6 linked regions of the Homo sapiens genome follow. The protein of the gene in region 5 interacts with the protein of the main gene of each other region in a pairwise test. Each region holds a gene or a part of one and is shown on either strand. Other genes may lie near its edges. The genes, in order: LUC7L2, UBASH3A, SUPT5H, UTP14A, SNRNP48 and EXOSC7.

Region 1 (5,242 bases), on a different chromosome or scaffold from region 5:
CTGATAAGTTTCTGAATTAGGCAGCCCGTCTAGTATTGCAAAGCTAAATTTAAATATATATATTTCTGTGTGTGTAGTCAGCAGAAACATGGATTTCTTAAAATCCACTTTGTGTATTTTTTTATGTGTCTGTTACTGGATTTTTTTTTTTAACCTTCAGACTTAGAGGATTTATGATCGAACTCATATTTACGAGTCCACAGTATTGTTTAGCTGAAATGACTGGATTTTCACTGCTGTATTGGGTTAGAAGTAAAAAATATACTACTTTCAAGGAAAAATAATTGAGTGGAGTTTTTTTTAGATATCAAAATTAATTCTATATATGCAAAATAATCAGAACATTCTTTTTTTTCTTACCATTTAATGAGTTTATATATATCATTTTATGATTCAGGACTTTTAATAATTAGGATTGTTCTTTTTTAGCATACAGTCAACTTCAAGTTACCCAGGGATAGGGGAACATGGAAACGTCCCCTGAATAACACCATGTAATTTGAAACCATTTAATGGGAACCCTTGTATTGGACACACAAACAGCCTATGGGAACGCTGTTGGGTGTCTTTGGCACTAAGAGGTGGAAATGGGTATCCAGGAGGTGGGAGAGAGATGGAAAAGGTAGGTAGGAGGGTATTTAAGGCAACTCTGTCCTTTTTTTTTTTTTTTTTTAATTCCAGAGACTATAAAGCAGCGACTCTCTTTTTTGGAAGTGGGGTTCAAGGTGGCAGTGACCCCCTCCACTCTTAGTGTCCTGTCTGTGAAGGAATCTGAAGTGGCACAGAGTCCTGGGGCTTTGGGAAAACATTACCTCCTCACCCCCTCAAGGTTTCTTCCCCCTCCCCTTCCTGACAGTTTTTAATTAGTTCCTTTTAAAATTCATTGGAGATTTAAGTCTGTTAGTTAAATATACCTTAACTTGAATTACATAAAGTAGTTAATCATTTAGATTACCTAAACTTCACTGGAATCCTTAGGAGTAGGAATTTTGTTAGCAGGGAAATGGAGAGGTAATTTTGGATCACTGGGCACTTCAAGAAAGGACATTCCTGGGTGAGTGGTGGAAGTTGGGGGCTTTAGACAATCTGAGGGCAGCATGATGGTGCCGGGAGGCTGGGCAGGGGGACTGCCAGGAGGTGGGAGAGAAATGCATAAGGGAGGTGGGAGGGCCAAAGACAAACTCTGCCTTCTTTGCAATTTTGCCTAGGGCCCTGGTGGTGGCAACCGCCTGTGTGCCACTGAAAATCGTGCCGATGCCTGGCATACTGCATAAATGGAAGCAGGGTACCGCGTGAGTTGAAACATTGGTCACACTATATAAAGTTTGTATATGTGAATCAGTGTAACTCATACCCATATAACTGGGGGTCTGACTGTATTTGGATTTTTCTGATAAGGCATCATGGGCTAAGGAAAAGAGCACTGGGCTGAGACTCAGGAGACCTGGTTTCTAGCCCCAGCTGTACCTCTAATTGTAACCTTGGGTAAGTCACTTAACCTTTTTTGCCTCAAGTTAAATCTGTAATTTGTTATATGGGAAACCAAATAATTTCCTATGTTATACTCAGAAATGTTGAAAAATAAATATATTTTAAGTTTTTTTAGAAAGGAGCTATAAGTAGATAGTAATTACTAGTTTATTTTATCTTGTTTATGATTCATTACGTTTTATAAATATCTTTCTGTTTTAGTTGTTAGCAGAGGGGAGAGGGATAATTTGTTTTCCCTGAACATATTCATTCTATTTGAAAGCAGGGAGGAGTTGCACAGGAAAATCCAAGAAACAGTTTGAGAATTGTCTGTGTGACAGTTGGAAGAACCCAGTACCCTCACACAGACTGTGATTTTTGCTCAGTTGGATTAATTGCAAGGATGTTCCTTAGCTAAAGCCCCTTTGCCAACAAACACAGTTTGGTCATAAGTCTCTAGTCTTGATCCCAGGAAAGTCTGGGAAGATGCAAGCAATAAGAATTAAATAAAATTGAGGGTGTGGATTTAGATTACATCCTTTTTTTTTTTTTTTTTTTTTTTTTTTGAGACAGGGTCTCTGTTGCCCAGGCTGGAGTGCAGTGGCACGATCTCGGCTCACTGCTACAACCTCCACCTCCTGGGTTCGAGTGATTCTCCTGCCTCAGCCTCCCGAGTAGCTGGGATTACAGGTGGCTGCCACTACGTCTGGCTAATTTTTGTATTTTTAGTAGAGATGGGGTTTCTCCATGTTGGCCAGGATGGTCTCGAACTCCTGACCTCGGGTGATCCACCATGCCCAGCCTAGATTACATTTTAAGCTTAGAAATTAGGTAAGTTATAGAAGGTAGTTCTGAGGGTTCTGTATCTCTTAATTGCTTATACCTTTAAATGGGAGCAGAGACCACCTTCGAAAGATTAAAATAGGCAGGAATGGCAGCCTGCCCTCCAAAACAACAAGTAGACTAGGAATGTTAGATAGAATTTTATAGCATCATTAATTGTCCCTTATGGTTAGGGACTGTTTCGGGCAAGTTAAAACTTTCAATAATTTTAACTATTTTAAATGTTAATCTTTCTAAATTGTAGGATATACTTCCTCAGTTAACATATTAATCATAATATTTTTGCTGATCAGTTGTACAGTAGTTATAGTTTGTGGGATATAAAACTGAAAGGATACTCATCCTCATACCCAGGAAAATACTGTTAAGAAAGCCATTTACTTGTTGCTAATGTAAGGTTAGTAGTACATAACCGTGTAATCTGTAAGATAGTATGACATTTCTGCCTTTCTGCAAAATTACTGAATCAAAGTTTGAAGTAGTGCGTTCTTTAATGGATTTTATTTATAAAATCATCTTTACTGTAATCTGTGTTCCTTGACTTTTCATCAACATTGAAAACATTTTCTCTTAATTTTTTCTCATTAACATAATGAACCATATTCATTTCTTGGTCAGTTGTGAGCCATTCTTTTATTCCACTTGGATTGTTCATTTTAAGTGAAGGAGGCGGAGCCTTTAATGTATACGCAGACATTTTTTAAATAATAACAGGATATTTCTTAGTCTAGAGCTTGTAAATTCTTTAATATAAGGAGTTTTATAGGATTAAACAGTAGTTTCTCTGCGTTTCAGTTAACTATTTAACTTTATCAGAGTTTCAGGCATATCCAAAACACTGAAAGCACCTGCATAGTGAATCAATGAAAAAAGAAAAGTTTTCCTCATTTTGCATTTTGAACTCTGAATAATATTTCTATCTACACAGCAGCCCAGAAAACAATAAAAGTATCACTTCATATAACATTGCATCGTTCCTGGATTCTCTACAGTTGTTTAGTTCTCCTCAAGTAAGCATATGCTTCTGAGACATTCTTTTACTTCAGGTAAATATAAGCAAAACAAAGAAAAATCATTTTGTCTATTTCTGCATCAGTTCTATAAGGAGCAAGTAAATTCTTTTATTTTCGTTTAGGTTGGATGTTGTCATATAAGGATAGATGGTAGTGTTCAACGTGTTCAAGATGGGTAGTAGGAATTCAATGGCCATGAGGTGTCATGGATCAAGGTCAGGTTTAGTGAATCAGGTACTCTTCAGTAACAGGTGGTTCATACAAAGCATTGAAGCTTAAAGTTGCTGTGAGTTCAGCAAGCAGGAGGGTTGAGAAGACAGGCAGATGGTTTAAAACTAAAGGTCAATAAGTGGGCAAGACTAGTTAAATGAGGCAGATACTCCCCAAAGATGGAATTCCAGAAAGGTGCTTGAAAAGGACTGAATTCTTAAAGCCTACTGCTGTTAGTATGTAGAGTTCTTGAGGAAACAAGCAGTTTGGCATAACTTAATCTACTAAGAAACTATAAGAAGGTGAAGGAAGTTGGAACATCTTACTGGAAAAAGAATGAGGGAGTGAAGAGGGAATCTTGTGAATTCAAAACTTGCAGAAAAGCTATTCTGTTTCCTTTTTGTTTAGGTTCTCATGCACTAGCAGCTGCTAGAATAGATATTGGAAGGCAGGGCCAAAATAGGTCAGTTGTTCAGTTTTGCAAGATTATTGAGGATATAGAGAAATTAATTTGTGAAAACTCTGAAATCATCTGCAGCTCCATGTTTTTGTTTGAACTGAATAACTTAGGACTTTGAGAAGTCAAAGCCGTCAGAAAGTAACATGAAGTCCATTCAGCTGAATAAATGTCATATTTTGCTATTAGCATAGAAAAGAATCTTTAAAACTTCTTTCCAAAAAGCACTCAGTATTGACCCATATGTTCCAGTATAGTTGTGAACCATGTACAACTGATGTTTGACTTATTTGACTCAACATGAAAGGAATTTAACCAGCTGCCCTTGCTGAATCTTGTCTCCTGAATATGGTAAATGGTTTTTGTTTTTAATCTTAATACCTTAGATTTCTGCAGACCCCAGTTTTCTCTTTTAGAGTTAACTGATAATTATTGGATAGTATCTATAATATACCTGGCTGTTCTGTTCTGTACTGTGCTCTAGTATTAGTTTAAATGGTAGACTTTTCTCTTAAAGTAACTTTAATAGTTTAATAGTTAAAGTTACTTGAAGGTATGTTTTAGATCAGGGACTGGCACTATGGCCTCCTGCTTTTGGTAAATAAAGTTTTATTGGAACACATCCATGCCGATTCATATACATGATGTCTATGGCTGCTTTGGCTTACGACAGCAGAGCTGAATGGTTGCAACAGAGTCATATGGCCCGCAAACCGAAAACATTTACCATTTGACTCTAACAAAAGCTTGTTGATCACCATTCTGGTTTAGTTATTCTAAACCAAGTGTGGTCCTTGGAGCAGCAATTCAGCATCACCTCAGCATCACGTCGTATTGTTAGAAATATAAATTCTTGGACCCACCTACTGAGTCAGAAATTCTGGATATGGGCCCCAGCAATCCATGTTTTTAGAAACCTTCCAGGTGATTCTGATACACATTAAAAGTTTGAGAAACCCTCTTCTAGATCAGTGTTTCCCAAATGTTTGTCACACTTATTGCCTTTATTATTATTTATTTTTATTTTTTATTTTTTGGAGACAGAGTCTCTGTCTCCCAGGCGTGAAATGCAGTGGCCTGATCTTGGCTCACTGCAACCTCCGCCTCTCGAGTTCAGGCGATTACCCTAGCTTCCCGAGTGGCTGAGATGACAGGCATGCACTGTCATGCCCTGCTAATTTTTGTATTTTTAGTAGAGATGAGGTTTTGCCATGTTGGCCAGGCTGGTCTCAAACTCCTGACCTCAAGT
Region 2 (5,242 bases), on a different chromosome or scaffold from region 5:
GTATCATACGGGCCATGTGTCTGGTGCAGCACCGCATCCCTCACCAGACCGAGTCCCTCAAGGGAAGGCAGATACCTCACTCATCTTTGCACCCCCAGAAACTAGCACAGCCCCTAAAACAGAGTTTGTGCTTCCAAAATGTGTGGTAAGTCAACTCAAGGATGGGTGATTGTTGGCTACCCACAAATGCAGAACTTTTCCCTGTCTCAGGGACCAGCCGTCTGATTCAGAAAAAAAATGGCCCAGTGGGTAGCTCCACAGCAAAACACAATGGCCCAGCAGGCAGCTCTACAGGGGCACCGGGAAGACAAGAAGAATGTGGGAGCTGCTCAGGAGAAAAGAAGGAGAAGGGAGAGACAGACAGCCACTGCTCTACTCAGCTCCGCCAGAGGGGCTTAAGGAAGGGCACACCCACTTCTGCTACCGCGGCCTGGCCCCAACTCTGCTGTTGGCAAACTGATTTGTTCCACCCATTTCAAGGAATTCCATCAGGGCCCAAGGAACCCTCCATTCCAACACCAGGCCCCTCGGTGCTGGATGGAAAGGAGGAATGCAAACCTCTGAAGGGAAAAGATTTCTGGAAGATGTCCCAGGAGAAGCAGTACCTTCCAAAGCCTCCAACCACCACCCCGGATTGCCCGAGACTTGCAGGGATCCCCAGAGCACAAGACTAAACCTGGAAAAGCCCCAGAAAAATCGAGAGAGTTTTCCCCCTACATCGACATCAATGGTACTTGTGACAAGCTGACTCCCTTCTGGTTCACCCTCTGGAGCCAACGGGGAAAGGCAAGGCAGCCCAAGCCATGTGACACAGCTCAGAAATCAGAGCAGGCCTTGGCCCCCCACTCCTTCCCCAGCCCACTGAGGTGCAAGCACACACACACACACACAGATAGACACAGAGACACACACATAGCTCACACACATAGACACACACAGATTGACACAGAGACTTACACATGCACACAGATACACACACATACATGCATACAGACATACATAGATATAGACACACAGACACACACAGATAGACACAGAGACGTACACACGGCACACACAGATACACACACATACATGCATACAGACATACATAGATATAGACACACAGACACACACAGACATGGAGACGTACACACGGCACACACAGATACACACACATACATGCATACAGACACACACAGAGACACAGATACACACAGACACACACAGATAGACACAGAGACGTACACAGCACACACAGATACACACACATACCTGCATACAGACATACATAGATATAGACACACAGACACACACATATATACATGCATACATGGATACAGACATACACAGACACACACAGATAGACACACATACACACTACATGTACATAGGTACACATGCAAACAGATACACACAGATATACACACACAGGAATACACAGATACATGCACATAGACACACACAGACACACACAGAGACACACATTAGATAGACACACATGCACAAACACAGACATGCACATACATGCACATACATAGACAAATGCACACATACAGACACACACATAAGCACCACATGCACACATATGCACACAGATACACACATGCATACACACAGACACACATATAGACATACGCAGACACACAGACACACATAGACATACGCATATGCAGACACACACACAGACACACACACATATAGACATATGCAGACACAAACACACTCACACACCTCCCTCTGTCGTTAGCTCCTCCCAGTCCCCCACCCCAGTTCTGGCCTGGCCGTGGTTAGTGGAGCTCCCCTCACAGGCAGAAGAGTGTAACGGAGACTCACTGTGTACCTTGATGCTGTAAAATGAAAACACTAATCTTCCGAAGTGTGATATTGATCACAGCTACACTTATAACATGACTATTCTTGAAAATTACATATCTGAGGCCAAGAAACACAATGTGAGACGGATTCAGGAATGGACATGTGTTCACTGGGTGGTTTTGTGTTGAGTGCCGTTGAGGGTTGCAGAGAAAACAGACAGGGAGGAATGTCAGGCCGGCCTGTCCATGGGGAGACGGAAGCTGCATTAAACACTGTGATCTGGCCTCATACTTGGGCTTGTAAGAAGCACTGTGGGAAATTCCGAGGGCAGCCCGGTGCTGGGAAGAGAAGGGATCAGGCCAACTCCCGCCAGGAGGGTGTGGTGTCTGGGTTTCCCCTGTGGTCCGATGTGGCCAATGGCACTGGGAAGGTTTTCAAGCCCAGGAAGCAGCCTCCCCAGGGCGGTAGGCAACACCGAGCCCAGATGTCAGGAGAGGCTGCGTCTGGCTGGAGGATGGGGGTGGGAGCCCCGTGGGCAAGGCTGTCGGGCCAGCACCTGTCGGGCTCCGTGGGCCTGAGGGATTCTCCAGGTGACAGAGAGCCTGCGGCCTCAGGGGTGGGAGCTGCATCAGAAAGAGGGTCCTGCAGCCACTCAGGGGGCATCAGGGAGGCCGGGCCAGGGGCTGTGCAGGCTCAGGTCCTCCAGGGAGCAGACCCCAAGGCAGAATTCCCAGTGCAGGAGACGCACAGGGGAGAGACTGCTGGTGAAGGCAAAAGAGGAGGAGAGGGTTGGAGGCAGGCAGAGCCTCAGTGCCTTAGAGGAGTCCCTGTGGAACCCGACTCAGTGCTCAGCCGTGGAAGAGAGGGTGGCCCCGCAGCTGGAAGTGCAGCTGAGTCCCGCTCACTACAGGCTCTGAGCAGTGCCTGGGCAGCCTTGGAGTCTGCTAGAAACCTCCAGAAGCCAAATCATGCAAACCTGAGCAAAGCAGTGTGCCATGGGACTGAGGAAAGGGCCTGGCAGGTGATGAGCACGTGCCATGGAGGGAGGGGATGCAGTTCAACGACCAGGGGATTTCCAACCTGGGCACCTAAAGGAGACTCCAACCTGCAAAGAAACTTACCTGAAATATTTGAAAAAACCGAGGTCCAGGTATAGAACAAATCCATAACCCCAGACACAAAGGGACGCAATAAATTATGTTACAGCGCTTTGAACAGAAAAGAATCTCACTTTAATTGCTGCCTGATTGTTATTAATTAAATTAATAGATGACTTCTGATGAGAGGTGTGGAAACACAGGCTCTGTCTCTGTCCCCTTAGTGTGAAGACCAGAAGGTGGAATGCCTGTACGAGGCGCTGAAGAGAGCTGGAGACAGGCTCCTGGGCTCCTTCCCCACGGCCGTGCCTCTGGCTCTCCACTCCTCCATCAGCTACCTCGGCTTCTTCGTCAGTGGCAGCCCCGCAGACGTCATCCGGGAATTCGCCATGACCTTCGCCACGGAAGCATCTCTCTTAGCAGGTGGGCAGCCCTGGCCAGTTGCAAACACAGGGCTGGATTCACAGTGAGTGAGCCCTCTGTGGCAGGGACTAGCCCCCGGCACATGGATGCAGTGGGTGGGTTCCAGGGGAGCAGAGCCCAGCAGCAATGGTGGGATGGCTGGGTGGGCTTTCTTCCGGGCTCAGTGGCTGCACCTGTCCTCACCCAGGCACTTCCGTTTCCCGCTTCTGGATTTTCAGCCAGGTGCCTGGACATGGCCCTAACCTGAGGCTGAGCAATTTAACTAGAGCCTCCTTCGTGAGCCACTACATCCTTCAAAAATGTAAGCCATTAGAAAGCTTCCGGACCAGCTTTGGTCTTCTCTTTAGGCGGGAATAGCCTTGTTCTCATTATGTGGTTTTTAAAATGCTTAGCTATATGCCAACAGCCTGGGAAAGTGCCCCAGAAGGGTGTGCCAAGCATCAAGCCTGAGTGGGTGACTGTGACGGGGTTGGAGGCTGGTGCACACAGGGAGTCAGGGCCTCCCCACCCCAGCCTTGAGTGGGAGACACACAAGTCCTACGTGACTTATTTCTGTATTTTCAGTATGAGCTTAGTGCTCTCTCCTTGGCCTCTCCAGGGAAAGATTATTTAGACTCATATTCAGAATCATCAAAATTCCCTTCTCTCCAAACACCAGCCCTGGCCTGGAGACCAAGGCTACCATTGGGGTTTAGTGGAAAGGATTGTGGACTTGACGTCAGAAGATGTGATTTTTTTCTGTGTCCCTGATGAGTGGCATGACCTTAATCAAGTCATGTCCACTCTCTCTGTCTCTTTTTCTTTCTCTACAAAACAATGAGGGCTCTCACTCTTCAAGAACAATGTTGCCTGAGTCTGTGGCCCATCCTGCCATAGTTCCCGGGACACAGAAGGCACTCAGTATTGCTGAGATTTGCCGACTCTAAAATCTGACGAGGCCGCAGTGCCTTGGTGGGAGGGCTCCCCACTTTCTCTCTCTGGGAGCGTGTCTGTCTGTGCTCAGACATGTATGAAGCACAGATCCTGGCCTGTAAATCCATCCCTGAATCCTGGGCTTCCACTTGGATGGCAGCTTGTGAGTCTGGAGATCGAATCTGCTGAATAATTAGAAAGTCGCCCCCGGTCTTTGTGGATTAGTATCCTTTATCAAATGATGGCTCTTTCACACCCAGGCCCTCCCCCAGTGAACCTCATTGGCAGCATCTTAAAAACAGGAAGACTGAGGCTGCAAAGGGTGAAGGGCCTGCCCAAGGTCCTGTGGTGTGTAGAGCGGTGTCCCCTAAAAATGTTTGTCCACCAGGAACTTGGGAATGTGACCTCACTTGGGAATAGGGCCTGTGCAGATGCGATTGGTTGGGAGGAGGTCACACTGCATTAGGGTGGGTTCCCGTAAGGGTAGAGGCCGCACAGAGACACAGAGAAGCCATGTGCCGACTGAGGCAGAGACTGGAGTGATGTAGCCACAAGCCAAGGGACGCCTGGGGCCACCGGAAACTGGAAGAAGCCAGGAAGGACCCTTCCCAGGAGCTTTCGGGGAGAGCACAGCCCTGCCAACACCTTGATTTTGAACCTCTAGTCTCCAGAAATGGGAGGCAATACATTTCTGTTGTTTGAAACCAATCTAGTCCCCTAACCAGGCTGGCGGAGCAGGGACCTGAACCCACCTCTGTCCTGCTCCATGCTGCCTGGGTTCATGCTGGGCAGCCCCACTTCCTGTGGGAGCCAGCGTTGACCTCACATCTACGCCCCGACCCTAAGCAGGCTGTGTCCTGCCCTTCCATGGCCCATGCTCTCAGCCTGACACCGAGGGGGTGGAGGGGACTCTCTCAGTGATGAGTGACCAGTCACTGCTCTGAAGTGGCCGAGGTCCCTCTTGGGGCAAATGCATGAGGCCCCCTTGCCCGCGTTGGTCCTCCCCAGTGAAA
Region 3 (5,242 bases), on a different chromosome or scaffold from region 5:
ACGAGGGGTCTGGGTAGCCAGGTGTTTGGGGATTGGGGGTTCCCCCATAGGCCTGCGGGGACGGGGTGGGCTCATCATCGAAAGCATACTCATATTCTTCCTCAGCCCTGTTGGGAGAAAAGTCTGTTGACAGCGACTGTGGTGATAATGCGATGGATGCTTCCAGAACAGCACCCTACACCAGACCCCCAACTGAAGCAATTTCATTCTCACGGGAGCCCCATCCAGAGGCACTCCTGATGTTATTTCCCTTCCACAGCTGACACTGTGGTTGACAGAGATGAGGGTGCCCTCCCAAGGTCACTCCACCCAGGCAGTCTTTCTCCAGGCCCAAGGGTAACCACAATCACTACTGAGGTTGGGGATGGAGAGGAGGCCGCTTTGCCCCCGCCCCGCCATGCTATGCCTCCTCCTTCAAAGGGACCAGCCTGAGGCTAGGAGCAGAGAATGCTGGGTGGGCCCCACAAACCCCTCCAATGCCCCAGACACCCAGCATCATCCCTCACACACACCAGCACACACCAGAACCTGGGGAACCCTGGACTCACCGTGACGGCGTGTTGGGGTTGTTGGGGTCCCAGGCCCCACTCTGGGCAGGAGTGCGGCTGCCATCATGCAGGGGCGTCTGTGAGCCGTAGTGTGGGGTGCGGCTACCTGGAATGGGGGAAATGAGTGTGTCTGTCCTGTCCCTTCTCTAGGTCCCCCTAGCCCCTCTTCCCTGTCCCCTGCGGGCACTCACCATCCTGGAGGGGTGTCTGTGAGCCGTACATGGGTGTTCGGGAGCCAGAGCCATACATGGGCGTCTGGGAGCCATACATGGGCGTCCTCCCATAGGTCGAGGTCATGCCGCCCGGGCGCCGTGAGCCCCTGGGGACGCAGAGAACAAATGGGGTGAGCAGACCCCTCTCACTGCCTAGCAAGCCCCACCCTGGCCCTCCCCAGGCCCCGCCCGTACACCGTGGTGAGCCGCTGACGGTCCACAGAGATGGTCTGGCAGGTGGAGTGCAGCTCCACACGGGCCGTGGACTCTGTGGCATCTTTCACCACACCGATGTAGCCTGCAGGGGGACAGGAGGTCAGGCTGGGCAGGCTCTCCTTCACCATGCCCCTCCCCAGGCCTCCACAGGCCTCGCAGGTCACCTTTGTAGGGCCCCTGGGAGATGCGCACGGTCTGGCCGATGAGTTCGTTGTCCCTCCGGCCCCGGCCCCTGCTCATGCCACCACTGCCGCCACCTGGGCTACCAAAGCCGCCACGCTGACCTGGGGATTGGGGAGAATGTCACTGGTCCCCCACGGCTGTGCCCACAGCAAGGGCACCATCAGAACGTCCCCTTCACTTGCTTGACTCCTCCCTACTTGGGTTAAGAGCCTCCTCTGCCCACCCCTGCCCCATGGCTTTCCTATGGAAGCCCTGACCATTCTGGGCTGTCACTGTGGCGTCTACCCTCCTGTGGGTGGTGAACCCCTAATAGCAGTGCCCAGCCCAGCACAGGCACTCAGTGAGTGTAGGCTGAACAACCAAGTTCCTTCCAGCCCCTTCTACCCACCACATCCCCTGACCCTGAACCCCTCTCACCTCCAGCACTGGGGTGCATGGGGCTGCTGATCCGGGGACTCATAGGCGCAAAGCCACCCACGGTGAAGTTGGTCACATCACGGGGCTAGGATAGAAGCAAGGAGTGAACTGGCAGGCAGGGGATGGGGGAACCACAAACCACAGGAACTCATCATCCCACGTGCAGGGCCCTGAGGAGACCACCCAGCCACCCACACCCCAGGCCTGAATTCCTCTGTGACAGCTGGTCCTGCACACTTTCCTACAAGCCCCACCTCAGGGCCTTTGCACTTGCTGTTCCCCCAAAATGCTCACTCTCCATCCCTTCATTCAGGTCTCTGCTCCAATACTGCCTCCCACTGAGGCCTTTTTTACCCTCCTCTGTCTAAAACAGCAGCCCTGGTCACTCCCTGTCTCCTGAGCCCATTCTGTTTTCTTCACAGCGCTTGCTATCACCTCAAGCTGTACGATGGGTTTATCTGTCTGTCCACCTCTAGAGTATCAGCTCTGTGAGAGCAGAGTATTTTTGTCTTGTTCACCACTGGTTCTCCAGTGTCTGGCACCTAACAGGTGCTCAGTAAAATGAAATGAATAAATAACTTAAAATAACTTGGTGAACAGCTCAGAATCCCAAATAAACCTTCTCACTCTTTGCCAAGGACCTGACAATGACACTGCTCTCCTAATCCCTCACAAGCCCAATCTTATCACTTCTGGGGCCAGAGGAGGCTTGGAGAGCTGAGCCAGGTACCCAACGCACAGGGTCCTGCCATGCCCACCTCACCTTTGAGCCCCCAGCCAGCACCAGGTGGCGGGTCTTGCAGACAAACATGCCCCCGTTCTCCACCAGTTTCTTGCAATGTAGGAAGGCGAAGCTTCGGAAGAGATGGCGAATCTCCCCTTCTCGGCCCTAGCCGGGGAGAGAAGGGTCACTCTCTTGACCATGTCCCCCTCACCCCCAACCAACCAAATTCTTTCAGATGCAGCTCAAAAGCAGGAACTTGTACTCACTGAGTGGGGGCCATCAATGACCTTAACGATGTCTTTCACATGGATGTTGTTCTGCTCTGAGTCCAAGGCCACAGCAAAGCGGTTGTCCTTCTTCCGGGTCACAGCCTGATGTCTGACAGTCACCACCTTCCCGTACATGTTCAGCACCTACAGAGGGAGAGCAGGGAGGCTGTGGGGGTGAGAATGGGAAGGGGAGACACGGGGCAGGGGTTCCCTAAAGTGGGATAATCCTTCCTTGTGGGAGACAGTCCCAAGCTCCACAAGGCATCTCAATTCCCTGGCTGCGGGGCAGGCAGGCAGAGTGCCACCCTTTAGGTACTGGGTCAACCAAAAATGTTCCCAGTCATTCTAAAACACCCTTTGGAAGGAGACTCCACCCCCGATTGGGCAACAGGGACCTGAGAGATGGAAGAAGGGGCTGATAGCAACATTGTTCATCCATCATTCTGTGTCAGGCCCCGTAAGATTTCACTGAAGCCTCAAAACTTCCTCTGAGGTGGATTCTGTCATGATTTCCATCTTACAGAGGGAAACTCAGGCTCAGAGAGGGTGAGTCACTAGCCCAGGGTCAGACAGCACAGGAGCAACAAAGCCAAGATGTGGATGTGGAGTCCAGGATCCTAAGTACTGTGCTCCATGACTCCCACATCCATGAGGAAGGAGCAAAGGCAGGAGGGCACATGTGGCACTCCATCCTTGAGCGAGCAACAGCCACCAGGGTACAGATCTAACCTCAGGGAATCATTCACTATGAACAAAGTAGACGCTGCTCTCGTTTCCATTTTATAGGGTGTGAAAACAGGCAAGGGGAGGGATCAATGACTTGCCATGTGCCCACTATCAGCCATTCAGATGTAAGTGACAGAGCCAGATCTGCAACCCAGAGCAGTCTGGGGGCTCTGCCACCTCCCAGGATGAGGGGTTGAGGGACAGGAAGCCTCCTAAAAGCAAGTCCCCGCCACAGAGCACAACACACACACCTGGAAGGTCTCCCGTTCTAGTCGCACGATGACACCCACAGTCTGGGGATCCAGCTGCACCAGCTCGCCCCATTCATGCTGGCCCCCAACATCCACACCTGATGCTGTCTCTGAGCAGAGCTGCAGGTCCCGGGGGAGCACCTTCAGCTGCCAGGGATGGTGAAAGGGGTGAGGCCCAGTCCAGGTGGCTCGCCTACCTGGGTCTCCTCTTGGCACGTGCACCCTTCCCCGACCCTTCTATCCACCTACCTCATGCATGGTGAGGTCAGAGAACAGGATAACGAAATTCTCCTCCACCCGCACAATGAGGCCTGTGTCGCCCTCGAATCGGCCAGCAATCACCTTCACGTGGTCCCCCATCTTGAAGTATTTTCTAAGTTCCTGGGCTGGGAACTCCAACATGTCCTGGGGGATTGGGTGTGGGGACAACAAACAGGTGAAGGGAGACCACCACAACCTGCCTGCCCCTCCTGTCTTCAGAATCTACGCATGTTCTCAAAAACCCCACTTCAGGCTCTTACCACCCACCCCAGACTACCTTAGTCCACCTGGACGACCCCTCAGACTGCCCCAGAAACAGCTGACCCCAGACACAGGACACCAACCTGGACAACCTTTACCCCAGCCCGCCCTCAAGACACACGATGCCTACCTATACCCACACAGAGAGCCTGCCCCTCAGACACAGGACCCCCGACTGGACAGCTCCTCAGCCCCACCCGGAGACAGCCTCACCCCACACATCACACTGGGCCTGCACAACCCCTCAGACATACACCAGACACAGACAAACACACACCCCGCTCTAAGCAAACAAAGTCAAGCCTCAGATTACTCCTTGGTTAATCACACTCTCAACCCAGTACTACCCAGATATCTTGCTTTTCAGAAACAAAAGATAGACCAAGTCACTCTCCAGAGACAGACACCACCAGGCAGGCCTGCTGCCCACCGACCCTGAGCTGCACTCAGACAGAGCCTCTCAGGCACCTGAGAATGCTAGAAGGGCCTCAACTTACCCTCCTGGAAACCAGGTGTCACCAGGCACACCACCGCCTCGACAGCCACATACAGTCAGATGTGCCTGAACACTCCAACCCCTGCCCGAGAACACCGGGCACCCACCTTGAGGTCCTCATGCTTGGGCATGATGGTGATCTTGTTGCCATCCACGCTGAGGATCTTGCCCTGCAGGTTGATGAGCTCACCCTCACAGACCTCCACGTTGTCCCCAGGTTGGAAGTTGTGCTCCCGCTCCTTCCCTGCAGGGGCAGTCGTAGGGCTGACTCGGGGGTTGCCACCATGGGCCGCCCCTGCTCCTTGGCCCAGGTTATAGAGGGGGATCAAATACCTGTGCTCTCAGTCACCACCTCCAGGTCAATGCCCTCTGGCTGGTCCTCAAACTTTTCCAGCTCAGAGAGTGTTGGCTTCACACCCTCCGTGATCTAAGCCCCCAGCGGTGAGGGGAAGAGAAGGAAATGGACCGAGGTCAGTGCAACAGCCCAGCTGAGTGGGCTGAGTGGGTCCTAGGGGAATAATTCTCCTAGGGAACACTCCTAACTTGAGGAGTGGGACAGAACCAGATAACCCACAGCCCAGGGCATCACCTGCAGGAGAACACTCACACCACCCCCATTACCAACACCCCTCTGGGACCCTCACCACAGCAGACATGGCGAAGCTCTTGAACAGAAAG
Region 4 (5,242 bases), on a different chromosome or scaffold from region 5:
AACGTTCCCGTCAGTTAGGGCAGGTTATATAGTCAATTCCGTGAGATTTCTCTGCAGCTAATATTTATTGAGTGCTTCATGTAAAGACCTTAATACCAGTGCCTAGCATATAGTAAGCATTATATAATTAACTGTTAGCTGTTATTAGTCTTAGTGCTATTATTGTAAGCATTTGCAGTCTTATTCCACACTGAAAATCTTTTAAAGCATTGAGTAGGCATTATTTAACCCCATTAGAGAAATAAATTTACTTACCCCCAAGGTCACCTGGCTCATAAGTTACAGGTTCAGGTGTGTTTGAATCTAAGTCCAATATGTTTTCCACTATGCTTACCTTGTAATAAAGAGAAGAGATGAGGGTTAGACAACCAAGTCCAAGTTAGGAACAGATCTCCTTGCTGCATCATGACAAAACATGACCCTAGAAGAAATACAAGAAACCAAAGCCCTGTTTGAAGAGAGAAGTGTTTGTCTCTCCCAACCCCAAGCCCCCATAAAATTTATTCATTCCTATTATATCGTTTTGCCTAATTTCAGGCGGAAATTGGCTGAGAGGTCTGAGGCTAGTCTGAAGGTGTCAGAGTTCAATGTCAGTTCTGAAGGTAAGTTGAACAAAGGAAGATACCCATGCATGAAACCTGTGGAGTTCCAAGGGCATTGTGTTCACCTCACCCCCCCTAGGAACTGTTTTTGATGTGGTTAATGACTCATACCATAAATACCTGGGAGAGTGGGTGAAGAAGTGTAGTCAGATGCCCTTCAGTTTCTTCCATCTCTCAAAGAAAGCCTAGAAGGCTGTGGTCAAGGTATCCTACAGAGTTTGATGAGATACTTATAGGATAGATGGACATGAATAAAGACAGCTGCCTCTTAGTAACTTAGTCATAATTCATATTTGTACAATTTCATTTTTATTTCAGTTCTCTTAACAATGCTTTGAGTTAGGAGACAGGCAAATATTCTCTTCAGCCAGAGCTCAGAGAGGTCACATTACTTATTCAAGGGCCTTTGCCTAGTACAGTATTTCTCAACCTTTGCTTTTTTATTGCTCCCCTGAGAGGAGCCTTTCAAGCCTTTTTTTTTTTTTTTTTTTTTGAGACAGAGTCTCACTCTATCGCCCAGGCTGGAGTGCAGTGGTGCGATCTTGGCTCACTGCAAACTCCGCCTCCCAGGTTCACGCCATTCTCCTTCCTCAGCCTCCCGAGTATCTGGGACTACAGGTGCCCGCCACCGCGCCTGGCTAGTTTTTTGTATTTTTAGTAGAGACGGGGTTTCACCGTGTTAGCCAGGATGGTCTGGATCTCCTGACCTCGTGATCCACCCGCCGCAGCCTCTCAAAGTGCTGGGATTACAGGCGTGAGCCACCGTGCGCGGCCTCAAGACATTTTTTTCCTCATTGTATCCCTCCCCCTGTGCCCCTTCCCCAGGAAATCAAGTCCTAAGGAATAAGAGTTTGTTGGACAGAGTTGAGCCTTGGAGGGACACAAAACATTGTAATATCTAAGATTTTTTTCATACTCTCCCAGAAAGAACCAATTTTCACCCTGGGGTGGCGGGGTGGTAAAATTGCCCCTGTTCAGAATACATGCTCTAATAAGCGGCAGCCATGGGATTTTATCCTAATACTGAGTCTAGATGCCAAATCTTTTTCACCCTGTTCACAACTTAGGCAGCTAGAATGGGTCTTGCATTTGTAGTAATCACTGGTGTAGCCTCCTAGGGCAAATAACAATGTATTCCAAGCGTACTTATTCAGTGGATATTTATTGTGTTTCTACTAGGTAGCAGTATCAGGAACTGTTGTAGATACCAAGGTTAAAGTAGCGAATAAGATGTGAGCTCATGGGGTTTACATTCTAATGAAGGGAGACAATAAGAGAGGATGATGCAGTAAAGCAACTAAGTGGCTACTTTAGATCGGTTGGTCATGAAAGGCCCCTGAAGAGGCAAAATTGAAGCCGAGATCTGAATGACAAGTCAAGTCAACCATGCAAAGATTGGGGAAAGCATTTCAGGCCAAGGAACAGCTAGCACAAAGGCTCTAAGGTAGAAACATGCACAACATGTTGAAGAATAGGAAAGAGGCCCCTGTGACAAAAGCATTCTAGAGGGTGGGGGTTGATATGAGGTTAGAGAGGCAGATGGGGATTAGATCTCATAGGACCATGTCCTTTAGGTAGATGAGATTCAAAGTATAATGGGGAGTCACTGGAGGATTTTCAGCAGGGTCATGACATGCTGTGGTTTATATTTTCGAAAGATAATTTTGGGCTGGATACAGTGGTTTACACCTGTAATCTCCAGCACTTTGGGAGGCCGAGGTGGGCGGACTGCTTCAGCCCAGCCATTTGAGGCTGGCCTGGGCAACATGGCAAAACCCCATCTCTACAAAAAAAAAATTAAAAAAATTAACCACGCGTGGTGGCACGCGCCTATAGTGCCAGCTACTTGGGAGGATTGCCTGAGCCTGGGAGGCAGAGATGGCACCACTGCTCTCCAGCCTAAGTGACAGAGTGAGACCCTGTCTCAAAACAAACAACAACAACAGCAAAAAGATCACTTTGGCTGTTTTTATTTTTGGCTGTTATGTGAAGAATGAATTGCAATGGGGCAAGAGTAGAAGCACCAGGAGAAAAGCAAATGAGTTTTGAATAAATATTTTCCCCTATCTTCTACCCCCTAACACGTTTGGGGATGAATGTAGAAGAGTGATAGTGTTGGCATGGCTAGAAATAGGCAATTGAAGTAAGAGAATTATTCTTGCTTCTCTGCACATTTGCCATCTACTGGCATTTTCTACTGAGGCTTCTCCCTACATTATATTGAGATCTTGTCTCACTTCTTGGTCTGACCAGAAAGTTTGACCTTTCCACAGGATCAGGAGAAAAGCTGGTCCTTGCAGATCTGCTTGAGCCTGTTAAAACTTCATCTTCTTTGGCCACTGTGAAAAAGCAACTGAGTAGAGTCAAATCAAAGAAGACAGTGGAGTTACCTCTGAACAAAGAAGAGATTGAACGGGTAAGCTACAGAGAAGGTGGTCTATTAAGGGAAAGAAATTGAATTGACAAGGGAAAATAGGGTAATAGAAAGAAGGGAAAGACCTGAAAAATGGGAGAAGGGGGAGTTGTGATTTCCCCACTATGGATAAGATTAAAAATAATCTAGGAGTGCCAGGCGCGGTGGCTCACGTCTGTAATCCCAGCACTTTGGGAGGCTGAGGTAGGCGGATCACCTGAGGTCAGGAGTTCGAGACCAGCCTGTCCAACATGGTGAAACCCCGTCTCTACTAAAAATACAAAATTAGCCGGGTGTGGTGTAATCCCAGCTACTTGGGAGGCTGAGGCAGGAGAATCCCTTGAACCAGGACGTGGAGGTTGCAGTGAGCTGAGATTGCACCATTGCTCTCCAGCCTGGGCAACACGAGTGAAACTCCATCTAAATAATAATAATAATCTAGGAGAAATTGCAGTCCTGAGAAGCAAGAGGACTAGCATCCTGATTCTTTCATCCTGATTCTAGCATCCTGATTCTTTCTTGGGCTAAGAAATGTTGCTTCCTAATTTCTTGTTAGTCCTTTGGGTTTGATGCTTTAATCTTGTGGCTCTTTCCGTTTACATGCCTTGCCTGCTTCAGATCCACAGAGAAGTAGCATTCAATAAAACCGCACAAGTCCTCTCCAAATGGGACCCTGTCGTCCTGAAGAACCGGCAGGCAGAGCAGCTGGTTTTTCCCCTGGAGAAAGAGGAGCCAGCCATTGCTCCCATTGAACATGTGCTCAGTGGCTGGAAGGTGAGTACAACAAAATGAAACTGAAAGGTGAGATTTTATAAGTTGGAGATTTCAGAGCCTGCAATTGATTTGATTGGACATGTTAAGCTAAACCCCAGCATAAGTCATTTTAGCTTAGTGCTCAGAAAGAAGGGGTTGCCCATCGTCATTGTCAGTCATGTGATAGCCAGTCACAATAGCTCTGTGATCACTTTTTTTTTTTTTTTCTTGAGACAGGGTCTTGCTCTGTCGCCCAGGCTGGAGTGCAGTGGCACGATCTCAGCTCACTGCAACCTCTGCCTCCTGGGTTCAAGCAATTCTCCTGCCTCAGCCTCCCAAGTAGCTGGGATTACTGGCGTGCACCAACACGCCCAGCTAATTTTTTTTTTTTTGGATTTTTAGTAGAGATGGGGTTTCACCATGTTGGCCAGGCTGATCTCAAACTCCTGACCTCAAATGATCCGCCCACCTCAGTCTCCCAAAAGTTTTGTGATTACGGGCATGAGCCAATGCGCCCGGTCTCTGTGTCACTTTTCATCTGCTTGTAGTATACAGTACTTGCTATTTCCATGTTTTTGTGTTAAACCATGTGATTGCCCGTATAGCAGGAACATAATAATGTTTTCTTTCTTTTACCCCAGTTTTTAAAAAGCATTTAAAGCCACATTCTGATCCTAGGGAAATCAGGAACTCGATAACATTAATGATGCCTTAGTGAGGATATGTGAACAACAGAAGCCAAACTTTGCTTGTACAGGAATACCGCATTAAAATATAATGTGTTGCTGGCAATGACTAGAACTTCAGCAGGTAACTTACTATGACTCTGAGCTGCAGGGCAGGGGTTGATGTTTTAGAGCTGGGTTTCCCAAACACTGACCCCTAACAAAGTTTGTGTCTGAAGCAAAAGGATAATTCTAAGTATGTTTGTTTGGTGGGTGTAATGTTGCCAGTTCTTTTTTATTATGAGGTTATTCTATTTTAATGGTGTTGAAATATCTTTTCTTCTATGAAATGATGGTGGTAGTAAATGATGGGATTGGGGGTGAAATGGTAGTTATGCTCTTGGCAAAATTAGAAGTTGGAAATCCTATGTTGGTCCCTGAAGTCCGGTTTTTAGTCCGAATAACTGCTTTAGAACAGCTAGCCTACTTTTCCAATACACCATTGGTATGGAGTCTATAATGGGCTGATTAGTCTTAAATAGATGCCCTCTTTGTGCTTCTCCTCTTTACTTTCCAAAAACCCAAGAATGGTAGTTTCTTAGGCGTTGGGAAGTTGAGCTAATTAAAGCTAATCAAAGTAAACATTGCTTGCCACAATAGCTAGAAATTGAGCGAGTAGTTGCTTATTATGGGGATAAGCTGTTTCTGATGTTTTTGCTGAAGTCACTACCATTCTCTTTCTAGGAGGCTTCCTTTTCTACATGAAAAAGAGATCAGGTTTAAAGTGTGGCTGCAGGATGAAGGGAGAC
Region 5 (5,242 bases):
AAAAGGCTTAGGCTAAAAGAGATTAGTCTCCACAGCTACCCTCAGATTGCTTGCTACCCAGTAAGTGAGTTGGTTTGAGGTGATGAATGCTTGGGATCCCCTTCTCAGAAAAAAAGTACAAACACAAAAGTTTTACATATAATTTCAGAGGATTCATATTAATAGATCCTTTCATGCCCAGCTTTAGAGCTGGGTTAAAGAGTTTCTCCCTGGGAACCTCAGCAGAGAGTAGGTTAGAAGTTTTAAGCATAAGCTTTTAGGAAATTGAAAGAAAACTTCATCCATCAAAAACATAGACATAGGCCAGACACGGTGGCTCATGCCTGTCATCCCAGCACTTTGGGAGGCCGAGGCAGGTGGATCATCTGAGGTCAGAAGTTCAAGACCACCCTGGCCAACATGGCGAAACCCTGTCTTTACTAAAAAATGCAAAAATTAGCCGGGCATGGTGGCAAGCACCTGTAATCCCAGCTACTCAGGAGACCGAGGCAGGAAGAATTGCTTGAACCCAGGAGGCGGAGGTTTCATTGAGCCAAGATTGCACCATTGCACTCCAGCCTGGGCAACAGAGCGAGACTCCATCTCAAAAAAAAAAACACACATAGACAAACGAGTTAATAAAAGTTTAAATTTCTAATGAATGTAGATATGACATCTAGCCAAAACCTGAACAGCTTCTCTTGTAAGGATTTCTGCATTGTCTTCTTTGAACCTTCTGTAGGTAGCTTTCTCTGGACAACTTACCTTTTTTTCCTCATTCTTTTTTCTAGCTGAATTATATTTACCAGGCTGTAGTCATGGTTGGTTTTCTCCCTCATTGAAATTGAGGATCTTTACCAAATACTGTTCTAAGCCAGTATCTGGACTTGATTTCTCAGAGTTGCTCTATGGCTTCAGAAGAAAGACCATCTTATCCTTAGTTGTCTATATTACATGGGTTCTCTACAACAGCCAGAAGCACATTTCTTGTATTTTTTGTTTTGAGGTTCCCACTTTTGTCCCTGTCAGGGAAATTCCAGGTTTTTTTCTTTGAGGGAGACAGTTGACTCTCATTTTATTTATTCGGAGAGATTACTGAGCTATGACTAGTCAAGCCTTTTTTGGCCTCTGCTATTGGTTCTGCTCATATCCCCTGGTAGTGTACCCATAAAAAAGTTGAGGTTTTTGGTTTTTGAAAGGGTTAATAATACTTAAAGGACTTTATTTGAGTCTTAAGTGGTTAGATTTACTGAATTTTAGAGTTGAAAGAGAACTTGGAGATCATCTAATCCAGTGTCTGCATTTTACAGATAAGAAAAACCCTGTCTGATAGAGACATGATAAAGTTCTAGTGTGTTTGTTCTAAAGGTTCTCCGTATTTTTATTTTTTAAAAGGTTATTTTTTTAAAGCTCTTTTATGAATTACATTTCTCTTTCACAACAAACTTGTGATAAGTTGAACGATATTTTCCCCTCCATAATAGGTGAAGAAACAGGCACACAAAAGTGAAGTAACTCACCTCTGCTAGATAATATCAAAGTGGATCCAGAACTAAGTTCTGAATTTTGACACAAACTCTGAACTGAGTTGTTTGATTTTCTGTTAGAAACCCTACATTTAGTAAAATTTGTGGACCAGGATTCTAGATATTGCTCAAATTTATTTATGATGTCTTTCATGATTAAGTGGAAGAATATCACAAACTTCATATCTCTGCATACTAATCGTGACTATCAGTGCTGTTCATTGTTTATTCTGCTTTGTGTAAACCTGTTTTAAAGAAATAAAAGTAGCTGCTTGGCCATATATTAATGATGATAACTGAGTTTTTGTTTCCTTATCTGTAATACAAAACTCTCATAGAGTTGTTGAGAGGAACAGAGATAATGGATGCTAAACAAGCCTTAGCTCCAAAAATTGGTAGCTTCTATGGTCTAAGTGAAAATTAATATACAGAAAGTAATATTAAGATAATGAAATGGATGAGTTTTATATATATGAGTAATTTAGAAAATGTTCTGCTTTTTAATTTTTATAATAGTAATAAGGGAGATTTGGACATTGAGCTTAGTTCTTTTCAAAAGCAAAGAATTACTTTGAATGAATAGTTAAGAGGAACTATTATATTATTTTGATAGTTAAGAGGAACTTTAATTTTGAATTCTTACACTATCTTAAATTAAGATTTAATTGTTAACCGTAACCTTTTTTTTTTTTTTTTTTGAGGCGGAATCTTGCTCTCTCGCCCAGGCTGGAGTTTAGTGGCACAATCTCTACTCACTGCAAGCTCTGCCACCTGGGTTCACGCCATTCTTCTGCCTCAGGTCCCGAGTAGCTGGGACTACAGGCACCTGCCACCACGCCTGGCTAATTTTCTTGTATTTTTTTAGTAGAGACGGGGTTTCACTGTGTTAGCCACGATGGTCTCGATCTCCTGACCTTGTGATCTGCCCACCTTGGCCTCCCAAAGTGCTGGGATTACAGGCGGGAGCCACCGCGCCTGGCCAACGGTAACTTTATATGATCTTCAACCTTCTTTAAAAATTTTTTTTGGCCACGTGTGGTGGCTCCCACTTGTAATCCCAGCACTTTGGGAGGCCCAGGTGGGCAGATCACCTGAGGCCAGGAGTTCAAGACCAGCCTGGCCAACATGGTGAAACCCTGTCTCTACTAAAAATACAAAAATTAGCCAGGCGCTATGGTGCGTGCCTGTAATCCCAGCTACTCAGGAGGCTGAGGCAGGAGAATCACTTGAACCTGGGAGATGGAGGTTGCAGTGAGCCAAGATGGCGCCACTGCACTCCAGTCTGGACGACAGGGTGAGACTCTGTCTCAAAAAAAGAAAAAAAAATTTTTTTTTATATCCTCTGTAGAGTTATGCAATTTCTCAACAGATTATTTTTGTGGCTCACTTATGTCTTAGACATTTTAAGATCTTTTCCCTCAGGACAGGACTTTCTTTAAATATCTTATTGATGTATTTACTTTTAAGGGAGAATGACTAACATGAAAAATTTTACATTTCTCCATCTAATTCGTATTTTGTTTGTTACACACTACAATGTAAGTTTTTTGACAAGGTTTTATATGTATGTTTTCATTTCATCTGTCATGTCAGGCCTAAACTCAGTGTACAGAATTCTCAATCTTAAACTTTATGAAAGCTCATACAGCTATTCAATCTATATACTTATTTTCAGATATAGTTACTTCGGTTAATTTTTTAACCAAGATATTTCAATCATAAACAATCATTTTATGTTTAGTGGTTTATCTTTTTCTTTCAATATTAAATATTCAGGTTGTATACTTCAGTATTGTGAAGTGTGTTTGAGTCATGGCCATGATATGAAGATCAGTGTACTATCAAAGAAACTTAAAAAGACAGCATAGGATGGGCTTTAGATCCAGTCTGTTCCTATCACTTGTGAGACTTTGGGCAAGTCATGTTACTTCTATGACACTTAATTTCTTTATCTGTAACGTTAAGGAATTGACTCTGAATGAATTCTCCCTAAAATTCTGAATTTGTATCTTTGTGACAACACCTACTAGTACTATTTAATGTTGAATGTTATATGTTTAAGATCCCCTTTGATGACAAAAGTAACAAGAATGAGAATTGGCATTATTAAAACAATAGATTAGAGTTTCAATTTGGGGTGACGAAAAAGTTCTAGAGATGGATAGAGGTTGCACAACGTGAATGCACTTCATGTCTCTGAACAGTACACTGAAAAAATGGTTAGAATGTTAAATTTTATGTTATATATATTTTGCCACAAAAAACCTGCAAAAACAGGCAGCCAAAGGGTCTTAGAGTTATTATAATTACAGCACATTCATATGTACCTTTAAATCATTTAAAAACATGCATTTTGAAAATTTACATTTTATGTAAATGTAAGTTTATTTAAGTATGTTTATCCTTTTTGTTGTCAGAAATATCTATGTTCCGAATGAATTGAATGCAGTTTGTTGCTTAACCTTTCCTGTACTTTTTCTTTTTCAGTAATTGGGGTGAGTATAAAGAGGAATTAGGAACCTGAATGTACTCCTTATTTAAAGATATGCAGTATCCTTTTTGCAAATGATATCCTTTTAAAAGTAAAATTTCTAAACTTTATCTTAATACCTGTCACATATTATAGTCTTGAATTGGAATTTTGGTTGAATTACAAGGAATTTAAGTATCAGTCTTCATCATAAAGAAATTTAAGATGAATAAATTGAAGAAAAGGCTAAAATAATTTAAGAAGGAAATTATATTTCTTTGTTTAAAAATAACAGGCAAAGGTTTATATGAAGCTTGTTTGTAATACATCATTATTTTCTAATCTGTGTTTTCCTCCCAAATTTTTATAGCCTAATTCAAAGGAATTAGGCTTATCAAAGCTGTTTTTATAATTTTGTATTATGAAATGCCTACTATAATTAGAATAAAATTGATTGACTTGAAAGGGAACCCTTTTTTCCCCATTAATTCAAAACCCTTTGACGAGTAAAAATGGCCATATATTGTTATGTATAGCCGTGTTAAACCATGGCCTCAGATTCACTGCAGCTCTCCTCTTAATATGTAGACAAGTAGTACCTCTTTTTTGTTGTAATGCTTAGTTCATAGTATGCTCTTATTTGAATTCTTTTTGCCTCTACCTAGGAACTTAATGAGGTTAGACTTTATCAAATATAAGTATCTGGAAAGAGCTACTGATTTTATGTTGTTCTATGAACCAGTTACTACTTTAGAATAAGTTAGCAAACAATAAAAGGATTCCTTTAGTAGCTCATGTTCTTTGTTTGCATTAGTGAGTAATGAAGTCTAGAAAGAATTGTTTTAAATTGCTTTTTTTACAGTTCCAATCATTTTTTTATTTGAGAAAATTTGAATCTCAAAACAAAAATTTTCTTCAATGTTTAATACATCATATCAAGGTATTGTATTTACTTTTTTTCACTAATGAGCAGATTTTAGAAAATTCTGTAACTACCGGGGGGCACTGCTATTAACTTTTTTCAATTAATTTGGTTAAGCCACTATGCTTCCTCCTCAGGAAATTAAAATGAGTTTAATTTAATCTGTGCTTTCCTGGCGTGAGGAGGTGTGGGATTTCTGCTACTTAATTATTTTGTGGCCCCTAGCTCTAAGTCCTTGCACAAGTGGGATATATTTTGAATATTGACCATCTAGCTTGATGTCTCATACAAAAAGATATTTTTTACACAGTTTTTAATATTTCCATAGTTTATTTTCAAAGGGAC
Region 6 (5,242 bases), on a different chromosome or scaffold from region 5:
TCTTAAAGGCGGCGTGTCCGGAGTTGTTCCTTCTGATGTTCAGATGTGCTCGGAGTTTCTTCCTTCTGGTGGGTTCGTGGTCTCGCTGGCTCAGGAGTGAAGCTGCAGACCTTCATGGTGAGTGTTACAGCTCTTAAGGCGGCACACCTGGAGTTGTTCATTCCTCCCGAGGTGGGTTCGTGGTCTCGCTGGCTTCAGGAGTGAAGCTGCAGACCTTCGCGGTGAGTGTTACAGCTCATAAAGGCAGTGTGGACCCAAAGAGTGAGCAGTAGCAAGATTTATTGCAAAGAGCGAAAGAACAAAGCTTCCACAGTGTGGAAGGGGACCCAAGCGGGTTGCCACTGCTGGCTCTGGCAGCTTGCTTTTATTCTCTTATCTGGCCCCACCCACATTCTGCTGATTGGTCCATTTTACAGAGAGCCGAGTGGTCTGTTAGACAGGGTGCTGATTGGTGCGTTTACAATCCCTGAGCTAGACACAAAGGTTCTCCACCTCCCCAGTAGATTAGCTAGATACAGAGTGTAGACACAAAGGTTCTCCAAGTCCCCACCAGAGTAGCTAGATACAGAGTGCTGATTGGTGTATTTACAATCTCTTAGCTAGACATAGAGGTTCTCCAAGTCCCCATCAGACTCAGGAGCCCGGCTGGCTTCAACCAGTGGATCCTGCACTGGGGCCGCAGGTGGAGCTGCCTGCCAGTCCCCTGCCATGCACCCGCATTCCTCAGCCCTTGGGTGGTCGATGGGACTGGGCGCCGTGGAGCAGGGGGCAGCGCTCCTTGGGGAGGTTGGGGCCACACAGGAGCACCCATGGGTGGGGGTGGGAGGGCGGGGAGGCTCCCGCATGGCAGGCTGCAGATCCGGAGCCCTGCCCCGTGGGAAGGCAGCTAAGGCCCAGCAAGAAATTGAGCACAGCAGCTGCTGGCCCAGGTGCTAAGCCCCTCACTGCCTGGGGCCAGCTGGCTGCTCCAGAGTATGGGGCCCGCCTAGCCCACACCCACCCGCTGAGCCCATGCCCACCCAGAACTCGCGCTGGCCCGCAAGCACTGCCCGCAGCCCTGGTTCCCACCCACGCCTCTCCCTCCACACCTCCCAGCAAGCTGAGGGAGCCGGCTCCCACCTTGGCCAGCCCAGAAAGGGGCTCCCGCAGTGCAGCGGCGGGCTGAAGGGCTCCTCAAGTGCTGCCAAAGTGGGAGCCCAGGCAGAGGAGGTGCCGAGAGCAAGCGAGGGCTGTGAGGGCTGCCAGCACGCTGTCACCTCTCAATATCTTCCAGGGAGGAAAGGTGCTGGGGGAAGGATGGGCTGCACAGGACCTTCCACCTGATTTGTGATGTTTATTTTCTGTCATTGAAAAGTTAAACGGGTGAAAGACCTGAAGCAAGTATGGCAGAGGGTGATCATTGGTACTGTGTGGTGCTGCAGTGTTTTGCTTTTTTCTGTTTAATTTCTCAAAAAAGTCAGTCACATATGCAGTTAGCCAGGCAGTTTAAAGATAAACTGTCAGTCACATACTTTAGAGCAGTGTTTTATTTTATTTTTTATGTTTCTGGGAAGCATCAACTCCTTGGAGAATCTGATTAAGCTAATGATTCTTTTTCTGAAAAAAACTGCTTTTGAAAAATGTTTACAAAGAATGAGAAGGAGCTCCATGAGCCAACGTGGAATGATTTCCTGCATATATATAGTTAAGTGTTAAAAAAAAAAAAAAAAGTAAGAGTATCTATAGTATTCCACCCTTCATATAAGAAACAAGGAGATATTAAAAAATTCATGTATTTGCTTATTTGTGCAGAGAAAATACAAGAAAGATAAACCTGAAACTGAAGAGAAACCTAGGGTGAATGGGAAGAAAGGGGCATGAAAATAGCATAATACGGAGGAGAGTGACATTTCTCTGAGCATACTTTTCTGAGTTTTCTCTCAGAACTATAGTGATAGCTCACAAACTCAGAAAGTAAATAAGTAATTAAAAGTAACCATGATGTGGGGGAACCCAAAATGGAAAACAAAAATTTACAAATGAAAATTAGCCAGGCATGGTGATGTGCCTGTAATTCCAGCTACTTCAGAGGCTGAGGCGGGAGAAGCGCTTGAACGCAGGTGGCGGAGGTTGCAGTGAGCTGTGCCACACTGCACTCCAGCCTGGGCGACAGAGCCATAGTCTAAAAAAAAAGTTACAAGTTACAAATGAGCCTGTGTTACAAGTGAGTAATGTAACCACACTGAAGGGCACGTAGAAGAAAAGAACTGAAGTAACTGGAAAACAGTATTTTGCCTGGATACTCTGAGGCTAAAGACAGAACTTTACACAAATACTGTGTGCTATTAGTAAATTTGTTTCTCACAGGGGTATGGGTTAGAAGTTCAGAAACTGTGTATACTAAGATTGAACAAATACAGAAATACATGTTAGATAATAAGAGCCAGCTTTCTCCTTCTTTGAGAAAGAAGTTACAAATAAGAAACAGAGGAAGGTTAGAATGAACCATGTGATGTTAGATTGGAATTGATCTATCAGTATGAACTCTTGGCTTTTTAATAGATATGTAGATAGATACAGAATTAAACAGATTTGTGTGTGTGTGGTGGGGGTGGTTAGTATACATAACTGTATTTTCTAGCTCTGTCTGCTGAGAAGTTCTGGAAGAAATAATACTCCAACAGCAATGAACTTAGAGCCTAGTTCCTGGTTTTAAGTACCATTCCCCAATAAAAGCAACCAGGGCTCCTTGGAGAAAGGCTTGATCCCTAGGGCTGGGCAGAGAAGACACAAGAGGATAGATATCTTGTGTTGCAGAAAGTAGATAATTACTCAAAAAGTTGGAGGCATGTTGAAAGAGCACAAAAACTAACCCAAAGAAGCCCCCAGTGGCCAAATTTGGAACACTTTGAGCAGCAAAATAACTAATGATAGTAGTGGATTATAACCATAGCATAAAAGATACCAATGAGTTGTACTGATACAAGTAATTGAAGGAGTAAATAAATGGGCAGAAGGAACAGGCAGCGCGTAGACCACCCTGAAAACCATCTTCTGCCAAAAGAGTCAGCAAACTTCCTGTAAAGGACTGGATAGTAAAGATTTGGGGCCTTATGGGTCATATCTCTGGCCCAACCACTCAGCTCTGCTTTTGTAGTGCAGAAACAATCATAGACATTACCTAAACAAGTGGGCATGGCTATGTTCCAGTAAAACTTATTTACAAAAACAAGGGACCTTAGTTTGTTGACCCTGTTCTAGAGACTGCCTCTTTAGAAGATTAGGTGTCTTTCACTATTTACACAGTAGATCTTGTTGAGTTTTAGGGGTAGGAGGGCTTCAGTTGAGATGATTGTACTCTGTAGCTCTGACAACATATACTTCTTGGTGCAATTTAAGAATTGCAGATTTAGAGAGAGGTGGCTTATTTTGTCTCTTGTTCAGATCTTGTTTTTGTGTGCATATTCTATATAGTGGTATGTAGTATAGATTTTGCAATCAGACACAACTGGCATGGAAAACTAGCTTTGTTTTCACTAGCTGTAGGACCTTGGACAAGTCGCTCAACTTCTCTGAGTCTCCATTTCCTCATATGTAAAATAGTAATGTTGTTGTTAGCTACAAGGACAGAATTTTAGATGATCCACTAAGAGGAAAAGAGATATTCTGCATATATCTTCTCTAGGGGGAAAATGGGTGAGTCCGTTTAGGAGTTATTGTTGATCTGGGGTGACTATAGGACTGTGGTTGTTAACACCTAGGAAGACCTCCGTGTGGATGGCCGTGGCTGTGAGGACTACCGATGTGTCGAAGTGGAAACTGATGTGGTGTCCAACACTAGTGGGTCCGCCAGGGTCAAGCTGGTGAGTACTGTGACCATGGTTCAAGCCCAGGTGGAGAAATGAGTAGGCCCTAAGGAATGAGCTGCTGACGCTGTCTGGCTTTTGGAATGCAAATTGCTCTTGGGGAAATCGAAGATCCGAGCCAAACTCAGGGAGGGGGGGTCTATCCAGATCTGAAAAGACTGCTCACCTCCTCCAAAGACCACTTTCCAAGTCTTAGCACTGCTCCTAAAAGAGTCCCCCAGGGGTGTATGTCCAGAAGAGGAGGGAGGTGGTGGAGTACCTGGCTGCATACTCTGAGTGAGGACTCTTCTTGCATGTGTCTGCAGGGTCACACAGACATCTTGGTGGGAGTGAAAGCAGAAATGGGGACGCCGAAGCTGGAGAAACCAAATGAAGGCTACTTGGAGTTCTTTGTTGACTGGTCAGTACTGTCTATGCAGATATTTCTAAAGATAAATGATTTTAAAGATGAAGATTCAGAAAATGAACCTCTGGTTTGCTGTTGAACCCACTTTTATACTTATCATTCAGCCATCCAGCAGGCATTTGCTGACCTCCTCCTATGTGCCAGGTACATAGTCAGGACTCTTGGCTTGAGTCCTGCCCTAGTCTTAACCACCTGGCTATTGCTGGCCTTGTTTTCCCTGTCCGATAAAGGAGGACATTTGCCAGGCAGCCTAGCACATGATTGTGATGAGGGTCAAATGAAATGATTGTGTTATGGTGCTTTGAAAAATATACACAGTAAGGATCATTTGGTCTAAAATGTGCTGTTTCTCTTCCTACTCTAGTTCTGCAGAAAACTGTTCATGATTTGCTTGACAGATGAAGCCTAGGGTCAGCCAAGCAGCCTGACAGGCTGAGGAAGTGGCAGCTAGGCAGGCAGTATGGGTGCTGAGAAGAGAGAGGGCTCTGCAGTGTCTGCAGCCAGCCTTGGGCCAGAATGTCACTTCCTTCTCTGGCCAGCTTTGTGATCTCAGGCTGGTTACTCAGTCTCACTGTGGCCAAATTTCTTCATCTAAAAAATGAGGATAATAAATAATACCATGGTGATGAAGAGGAAATGAATAGAGTGAGTACCTAGCACAGTGACTGACTTCCAGTGGGCTTTCAATAAGTGTTATTTCTCCTTATTTTGTCAATAAGTTCAATAAGTATTATTAGCTCCACATTCTAGGGGTCGGGGCTTTTTATTTGGTTGCTGGCCAGGTCCCGTCTTCTATCAATTACTTTGCTTCTGGAAGCCAGGCCTTCTTGAAGTGGGTAAGGATCTCTGTGGGCTCATGCTGGGTGTAGGTATATAATGTTGACCCTGTATCAAGATCCCCAAGACCACCTCCACATTCAGAGATTTGCTAGACTTAGCATATAGTGATACTCACAGCTAAGGTTTATTACAGCAGTGAAAATGCAGTAAC

What was found.
Region 1: the proteins of SNRNP48 (region 5) and LUC7L2 interact in a two-hybrid assay, tested with the Homo sapiens proteins (one large-scale study listed by BioGRID).
Region 2: the proteins of SNRNP48 (region 5) and UBASH3A interact in binary tests that used the Homo sapiens proteins (3 or more experiments, as listed by UniProt).
Region 3: the proteins of SNRNP48 (region 5) and SUPT5H interact in a two-hybrid assay, tested with the Homo sapiens proteins (one large-scale study listed by BioGRID).
Region 4: the proteins of SNRNP48 (region 5) and UTP14A interact in a two-hybrid assay, tested with the Homo sapiens proteins (one large-scale study listed by BioGRID).
Region 6: the proteins of SNRNP48 (region 5) and EXOSC7 interact in a two-hybrid assay, tested with the Homo sapiens proteins (one large-scale study listed by BioGRID).

What each region holds. Positions count from the first base shown.
Region 1 is NC_000007.14:139,361,968-139,367,209, forward strand, and holds part of LUC7L2 (putative RNA-binding protein Luc7-like 2), read left to right. Parts: intron 1-5,242. UniProt on the Homo sapiens protein: May bind to RNA via its Arg/Ser-rich domain.
Region 2 is NC_000021.9:42,409,906-42,415,147, forward strand, and holds part of UBASH3A (ubiquitin-associated and SH3 domain-containing protein A), read left to right. Parts: intron 1-3,118; coding exon 3,119-3,317; intron 3,318-3,504; coding exon 3,505-3,618; intron 3,619-3,653; exon of another isoform or gene 3,654-5,242. UniProt on the Homo sapiens protein: Interferes with CBL-mediated down-regulation and degradation of receptor-type tyrosine kinases. Promotes accumulation of activated target receptors, such as T-cell receptors, EGFR and PDGFRB, on the cell surface.
Region 3 is NC_000019.10:39,468,828-39,474,069, reverse strand, and holds part of SUPT5H (transcription elongation factor SPT5), read right to left. Parts: coding exon 5,209-5,242; intron 4,992-5,208; coding exon 4,898-4,991; intron 4,809-4,897; coding exon 4,672-4,808; intron 3,952-4,671; coding exon 3,796-3,951; intron 3,694-3,795; coding exon 3,547-3,693; intron 2,714-3,546; coding exon 2,567-2,713; intron 2,466-2,566; coding exon 2,340-2,465; intron 1,662-2,339; coding exon 1,577-1,661; intron 1,261-1,576; coding exon 1,141-1,260; intron 1,059-1,140; coding exon 956-1,058; intron 868-955; coding exon 740-867; intron 655-739; coding exon 549-654; intron 108-548; coding exon 1-107. UniProt on the Homo sapiens protein: Component of the DRB sensitivity-inducing factor complex (DSIF complex), which regulates mRNA processing and transcription elongation by RNA polymerase II.
Region 4 is NC_000023.11:129,908,133-129,913,374, forward strand, and holds part of UTP14A (U3 small nucleolar RNA-associated protein 14 homolog A), read left to right. Parts: exon of another isoform or gene 1-421; intron 422-537; coding exon 538-602; intron 603-2,875; coding exon 2,876-3,018; intron 3,019-3,633; coding exon 3,634-3,789; intron 3,790-4,446; exon of another isoform or gene 4,447-4,559; coding exon of another isoform or gene 4,560-4,578; intron 4,579-5,177; coding exon of another isoform or gene 5,178-5,242. UniProt on the Homo sapiens protein: May be required for ribosome biogenesis.
Region 5 is NC_000006.12:7,595,681-7,600,922, forward strand, and holds part of SNRNP48 (U11/U12 small nuclear ribonucleoprotein 48 kDa protein), read left to right. Parts: intron 1-3,992; coding exon of another isoform or gene 3,993-4,021; exon of another isoform or gene 4,022-4,179; intron 4,180-5,242. UniProt on the Homo sapiens protein: Likely involved in U12-type 5' splice site recognition.
Region 6 is NC_000003.12:44,985,400-44,990,641, forward strand, and holds part of EXOSC7 (exosome complex component RRP42), read left to right. Parts: intron 1-3,740; coding exon 3,741-3,842; intron 3,843-4,150; coding exon 4,151-4,245; intron 4,246-5,242. UniProt on the Homo sapiens protein: Non-catalytic component of the RNA exosome complex which has 3'->5' exoribonuclease activity and participates in a multitude of cellular RNA processing and degradation events.